Homo sapiens: one gene and its partner. The protein of the gene in region 2 interacts with the protein of the main gene of each other region in a biochemical or structural test. Each region holds a gene or a part of one and is shown on either strand. Other genes may lie near its edges.

Region 1 (3,500 bases), on a different chromosome or scaffold from region 2:
CAACATGGTGAAACCATGTGTCTACTAAAAATACAAAAATTAGCTGGGTGTGGTGGCGCGCACCTGTAATCCTAGCTATTCGGGAGTCTTGAGGCACAAGAATCGCTGCAGGTTGCAGTGAGCCGAAATCACACCACTGCACTCTAGCCTGGGTGACAGAGCGAGACTCTGTCTCATAAATAAATTAATTAAATAAAATAAAGATAGCAGAGAAGGGCTGGTGTGGTGGCTCGCACCAGTAATCAAAGAGCTTTCAGAGGCCAATGCAGAAGGATCGCCTTCCCGCCAAAAATTTGAGACCAGCCTGGGCAACACAGCAAGATCCCATCACTACAGAAATTTAAAAGTCACCCATATGCGCGTGGTAGCACATGCTAGTAGTCCCAGCCTCTTGGGAACCTGAGGTGGGAAGATGGCTAGAGCCGGGAGATCAAGGCTGCAGTGCGCTGTGATCAAACCACTGCACTCCAGCCTGGGCAACAGAACAAGATCCTGTCTGTAAAAACAAAAATAAAACACACAATTGCAAGGACACCAAAATTATATTCTCACACAACTTCAGAAGGTATCTCACCTACAAAATATAAAAAATTCCATAAATTCTATTTATGGCATAAGAGCTGCATCAGGAGAAAGCATGGAGAAGACTCGGTACGGCGAGAGGATAGGGAACTGCAACATAGTAAAATATTGTTAGGTCTTCACAATGACTGCTGCAATATTTAATGCAAATGTTAAATGCCTCTTCAAAAAGCAGCTTCCTACAGTTAAAAAATAGTAATATTCTATAACTAAAATTTGTTTTTTGCTTTTTTTTTTTAAATTCTACACGCTAGCAGCAGCAAAGGAAAAAAGCTGGATGCTACACCTAAAAGTATACAGCAACTGAGGATGCCCAAATAACAGTAAGCTGATGTACTTACAGGGAGTTTGGTGAAGGCCGGGTTGGTGACATGCTTCCCAAAGGCATCTTCCTGGAACTGAAGAAGCTGCACCACCAGCCCAGCCAGTGTTTTATTGGTAGGAGCATCCGCATGAACATACTGCAAGATAAAGACAGGCATTCAAAAACTAGTACAATTTTTGCAGGAGAAAATGTTGGCTTACTTCCTAGTACCTACTAAGTACTTACGTTATGGGAAATTTATAGATGTCTGAGACACGCTCTGTGCTATAAAGGAGCTTACAAAAACAAATATGTGTGTGCATTTAAAAATGGTTAAGACGGTTAATTTTTTTTTTCTTTTCTTTGAGACGGAGCTTCGGTCTTGTCACCCAGGCTGGAGTGCAGCGGTGCAATCTCGGCTCACTGCAACCTCTGCCTCCCGGGTTCAAGTCATTCTCCTGCCTCAGTCTCCAGAGTAGCTGGGATTACAGGTATGAGCCACTACCCCCAACTACTTTTGTATTTTTAGTAGAGACGGGGTTTCACCACATTGGATAGGCTAGCCTCAAACTCCTGACCTCATGTGACCTGCCCCTGCCTCGACCTCACAAAGATAAATCTCCTGTGTTTTTTACCAAAAAAAAAAAAAAAAAGTGAAATATTATCCATATTAATGTAAAGAATGTCAAAAGCCCAAACCAGTAGTAGACACATCAGCTAGGAAGCTTCACAGCAAGGAAAAATAATGGGTAACACAACAAGAAAAGAATAAATTAGTGAGTTAAATGTAAAAGTTTTATTTGGCAATTACATGTTCAATATCACTTTGAGTAGCCAATACTCTCAAAAAATTTTTTTTCTTTTTTTTTGAGACAGAGTCTTGTTTTTCACCCAGGTTGGAGTGCAATGGCATCATCTCAGCTCACTGCAACCTCCGCCTCCAGAGTTCAAGCGATTCTCCTCCCTCAGCCTCCCTAGCAGCTGGGACTACAGGCGCGCAACCACCATGCCCGGCTAATTTTGTTTGTATTTTTAGTAGAGACGGGGTTTCACTATGTTGGCCAGGCTGGTCTTTAACTTCTGACCTCATGATCCGCCCACTTCGGCCACCCAAAGCGCTAGGATTACAGGCGTGAGCCACCACACTCAGCCTCAAAAAGTATTTTTAAACCTCCAATTCCAAGCAAGAAAAACATCTATACCTGCCTTTCAGTTGGACGAGAGAATTTTTATTTTTTTATTTTTTTTTGCCGGAGCTAACTTTCGAACTACCATCCAACATTTCAAGGTTAATGTGGTATGTCTCTATTACAATAAATATTTTTTAGATGAGTGGTGTATGGTCAAAATTACATCAACTGCAAAGTCTACAATTATTATGCATAGGACAAAGGGCACACAATTTCTGCTACTACCATTGAAACTTACTTACAGCATATAAAAAGGCAATCATTTACTTTTTTTTTTTTTTTTTTGAGATGGGGTCTTCTTCCATCACTTAGCCTGAAATGACGAAACCCCGTCTCCACTAAAAAACAAATACAAAAAATTAGCTGGGTGTGGTGGCGCACACCTGTCCCCATGCACTCCAGCCTGGGTGACAGAGCCAGACTCCGTCTCAAATAATTAATTTTAAAAACTTTTTTTGTGTGTGTGTTTTTGGAGTCTCGCTCTGTCACCCAGGCTGGAGCACAGTGGCGCAATCTCTGCTCAGTGCAAGCTCTGCCTTCTGGGTTCACATCGTTCTCCTGCCTCAGCCTCCCAATAAACTGGGACTACAGGCACCCACCACCATTCCCGGCTAATTTTTTGTATTTTTAGTAGAGACGGGGTTTCACCATGTTAGCCAGGATGGTCTCGATCTCCTGACCTCGTGATCCACCCGCCTCAGCCTCCCAAAGTGCTGGGATTACAGTACTGTGCCCAGCCAATTTTAAAAACTTTAAAAACTACATACTACTTTCCCCTTCCTTATACTATATTGATAATTTGCAACAAAAACTAGCAAGCCTAGTTTTTGAAGGACCATATACTTTTTTTTTTCAAGACAGTGGTTTCTTGCTGTCTCCCAGGATGGAATACAGTGGTGTAATGACAGCCACCGCAGCCTCAATCTCCTGGGCTCAAGTGATCCTCCTCCTCCACCTCCCAGAGAGCTAGGACTACAGAGGCGTGCCAACACATCTGGCTGATTTTTAATTTTCTGTACACAACCGTTTTCACCAACTTCTCTGGGCTAGTCTAGAACTCCTGGGTTCAAGTGATTCTCTCACTTTGGCCTCCCAAAAAGTACTGGGATTAGAGGCATAAGGTACTGCACCTGGCCCATATACTTTCAAGTGAAAATTTGAAGTCAGTTTTTCTCCAATATACTCAACATAGTACTTTTTTTTTTTTTTTTGAGACAGTCTCACTCTGTTGCCCAGGCTGGAGTGCAGTGGTGCGATCTTGGCTCACTGCAAGCTCTGCCCCCCAGGTTCACAACATTCTCCTGTCTCAGCCTCCCGAGTAGCTGGGACTACAGGCGCCCACCACCACGCCTGGCTAATTTTTTGTATTTTTAGTAGAGACGGGGTTTCACCATGTTAGTCAGGATGGTCTCGATCTCCTGACC
Region 2 (3,500 bases):
GAGGACGCGGTGGAATGGGGTAAGAGCAAACCTTTTCTCCTTTTACCTAATTTTGTTTCATCCATAGGATTTTCAGTGGAAAGAAGGGACTGAAAGACATAAGAAATTAATTTCTGCATTTCCATGGACAATCTGTTGAGCTCAAGCCATCTTCTAAAACATGGAAATGTCATCTTTGTGGCATATATTAAGTGGCAGTTTATTTTCTTTCCCTGCCAGTATACTTCGTTGGGTCGGGGAGAACAAAGAATGGTTTTGAAACCAGAGCTTTCAGTTCCCTTCATGGTTTCCAGAGGTGAGAAGCCTCTGTGGGTAGTAGATTTGGGATGGAACACACACAACCCTTCTAATGACCCTAAGTTGTTAACTAACTGCCTTTGAATGGTTGTCTTGAAATACCTGGTGTATATACTGCAGAAAAGGAATGCAGCTGTTTTCCACAGTGTTTGTCCCCAACTTCTGTTTGTACTCAGAATCGTTGAACATATGAAGATTTTGGTCCCATAATCCTTAAACTATAGCCTGAGGTGCACCTGATTACATAGAGTTTGGATGGAGCAAAGAAAAATCCAATAGCATTTTGCAGAGTAATGTATATAATTATGGGCTCACTTCCTACTGGAGATGTTGAAAGTCTAAATCGGTTTGACCATTTTGATTGATGGCACAATCTGGTTTAGAAAACTTTGTTTAGATCAATGACATAACCCTGCTGCCTCTGCCTGCCCTTCCCCTCCCTTCTCCCATCCCCTTTTCCCTATCTGGTGTCTGTACTTTGATGAAGGTGAGCTATAATATTGGTGGTTAACATAATCCAGAAGGCTTAGTTCTGTGTGTGTTCTGTCCCTATATAAACTGGTAAAGAAAAAAAAAAGTTATGCAGAATGTTAGATATTTACATTTGATACGGTGTGCCACTATTCAAGGAAAAATTAAATAGCATTTTTTAAAAAACAGAATGAACTTCAAAATTAAAGTTGATTTTTAACTTCCATATTAGCAAATACTCTTCACTACTGAAAGACAGTACTATTTTGCATATTCTGCATAACTTTAAGAAAGTCTTTAGTGAAATCTTTATTGGAAGAAAGTCATTTGACAACAGGCAAAAATTTAATGATTCGGTATGAAGTAAAATCAATCTTCTGATTTGGAAAATACTCTATTATAAAGGTTTCACTTCTTTTTGGATGTTTTAAAATAGACATAGACACTTGAAAGTACTATCATCACGTCTCAAATCACCTAGAATTCCTAGTATTTTTAAATTGCAAATACAATTTCAAGTTTATTTAAATACTCCAGAAGTTATAATCCTACTAATTGTGCTAGACTTTGCTAGTAGAGGGGGCCCCTCTTTCTGGATGAGAAGTCTCTCTTGCAGCCATAGAAGAGACCATGGCTTTCCCCATAGGTTTTTCAACAGACTGTGAAGCAGTCTGTCGGATCCTGTGGGGATAGACGGGCATTTCCCTCGTTGCCCCCCTTTTTATTGTGGTGTGGTGATGGTTTTCAGTGTCTTGTACAGGTAAGGCACTCAATGTTGTTAACATGCCCTTTTTCATTGCCTCAGTATTTTGATATTTTCATTGGCTGTTAAACGTGGAAACTTTTTAACATGCTTTGTCGCATTTATATGCTACAGGTTACAAAGTGAGAGCCTTGTATACACTTCAATACTTAAAAAGTACCCGTACTCAGTACTCAGCCGGCAGCATAATGAAAAGTGGGACTAGACACGGTGTCCATATGGAGAGGAAAAATATACATAGAATATTTTTAACAAAATGTATTCATTGTATAAATGGAATCCTTCTGTAACTTTGGTAACTGCATACTTGTTGTTTGGTAATGAACCAGAGGAGGTATAATACTCTAGAATTGTGTAACATTAAAGTGTAAACTTTTGTGTTTAAAGAGAGAGAACATTTTATGGTGTGTACTTTTAAAAAGGAAACAAAGCTGCATGCAACAGCTTGAAATTGTATATTCAGGTATTAAAGGTGCAATACTGGTTAGAAAAAACTCAGGGCCTCCCACTGGGGAGCTGCCTTTATTTAATTTTAAAGAAAACAAAATCTAACCCAAAAAGTCCAATTCATATTTCCCTCTCCCCTCTTTAAGTAATTTTACATGGCCATAGTCATTATTCTAACTGATATGTCTATAAAGTTGCACCCCCAGTCCGTTGAGCCTTGGTATTTGTTGTAAATTCTCCTTTCACAGCGATTGTTAAATCTATTCGTGCCCTGAGATGTATGGCTTTATGCTGAAGATTGGCTGGATGCGTCCTCTGATGTGTGTTGTAGGAATTTAATGTGGTTGTCTCCTGCTTTTATTATACTGTGACTTGTTAGGAAACCCTGGGCCTCATTTGGCTCTCCCTTGGGAGAGGTTGAGGGTGCACCTTTATGAACATGGAAAGGTTTATCACAGCAGTTAACCCCCACTTGCTCCTCCCCTCTATACCAAGCTCTTCTGGTTTTTCACCTGACGGGGTGGGTGTTTGGGATCTATTTTTTCTTGCTAATTTGCCAAGTATTGCACTATTAATACCAGCCCCCGAAATGAAAGGAACCAACCACACTGGTGTGTACAATCAGACAAGCAAGGTTGTATATTGAGGAAATTTGAGCAAGCTGCCCTGAAGAAAGGCATAGTGACAAGATGAGAGAGATGCATTGTTTGGAGATGTGTTTAGCCAGTGCCCTTCTTCCCCACGAGCCCCCCCAAGGCTCAGAGCGGTACTGGCTTTTAAAGGGAAAGGCCTTCATTTCTTCGTTTATCCCCCCAGCAGCGCTGGAGAGCGAGGTGGCTTCAATAAGCCTGGTGGTAAGTTTTTGAGTATTACCATAGATAGTGTTTAAAAAAAAATGCAGTCAGTTTTTAGAAAACTATAATTTTTTTATTAGTTTCATAAGTGGTTTAAAAATGATCTATACAAAAGAGACTAATGGGTACTGCCGGCATTGTCTTAGGGGTTAATAAGGTTAACCTATGGTTACAAAACAAAGGGTAACTTGAAGTATTGAGTAACTGCTTCTGTAATATGGGGGAGAATAAATTTTTAAATTTGGTTTATTTAGAGGAAAAATTTTGACTTAAATTTAACACTGATTTGGCACATAAGCATTGAGAGTGTATTTGGTTAATGGTTTAGAAGCAAACCAGCAAAGGAAAAAAGCAAACCCTAGCAAACCTTTCACAAATGTTAAAGAGACACTGCTCCATTTTAGCAGTGCGGGTCATTTTGAGTTTAATGAATCCCCATCAAATGGTGGTATAGTAGATAGCTATGTGTGTTTGTAAGGTTTGTAGCTTGCAAGACGTGCACTAATAATATTTTATATGATCTTTCCTGGTTGGCAGGACCCATGGATGAAGGACCAGATCTTGATCTAGGTAATTTTGAATTCTAGTTGTGCTTCATATCGTGCTTTGTAAATTAATGGTACAGAGGTAAATGCATGCGTAGAGTTCAGCAGCCTTATAGACCAGTG

What was found. Proteins that work in one complex are often made in the same cells at the same time.
Region 1: the proteins of EWSR1 (region 2) and SMARCC1 form a complex in vitro, tested with the Homo sapiens proteins (one large-scale study listed by BioGRID).

Annotation. Positions count from the first base shown.
Region 1 is NC_000003.12:47,771,894-47,775,393, forward strand, and holds part of SMARCC1 (SWI/SNF complex subunit SMARCC1), read right to left. Parts: intron 1,044-3,500; coding exon 924-1,043; intron 1-923. UniProt on the Homo sapiens protein: Involved in transcriptional activation and repression of select genes by chromatin remodeling (alteration of DNA-nucleosome topology).
Region 2 is NC_000022.11:29,288,768-29,292,267, forward strand, and holds part of EWSR1 (RNA-binding protein EWS), read left to right. Parts: coding exon 1-19; coding exon of another isoform or gene 20-23; intron 24-1,645; coding exon of another isoform or gene 1,646-1,736; exon of another isoform or gene 1,737-1,917; intron 1,918-2,794; coding exon 2,795-2,832; intron 2,833-3,369; coding exon 3,370-3,402; intron 3,403-3,500. UniProt on the Homo sapiens protein: Binds to ssRNA containing the consensus sequence 5'-AGGUAA-3'. Might normally function as a transcriptional repressor. EWS-fusion-proteins (EFPS) may play a role in the tumorigenic process.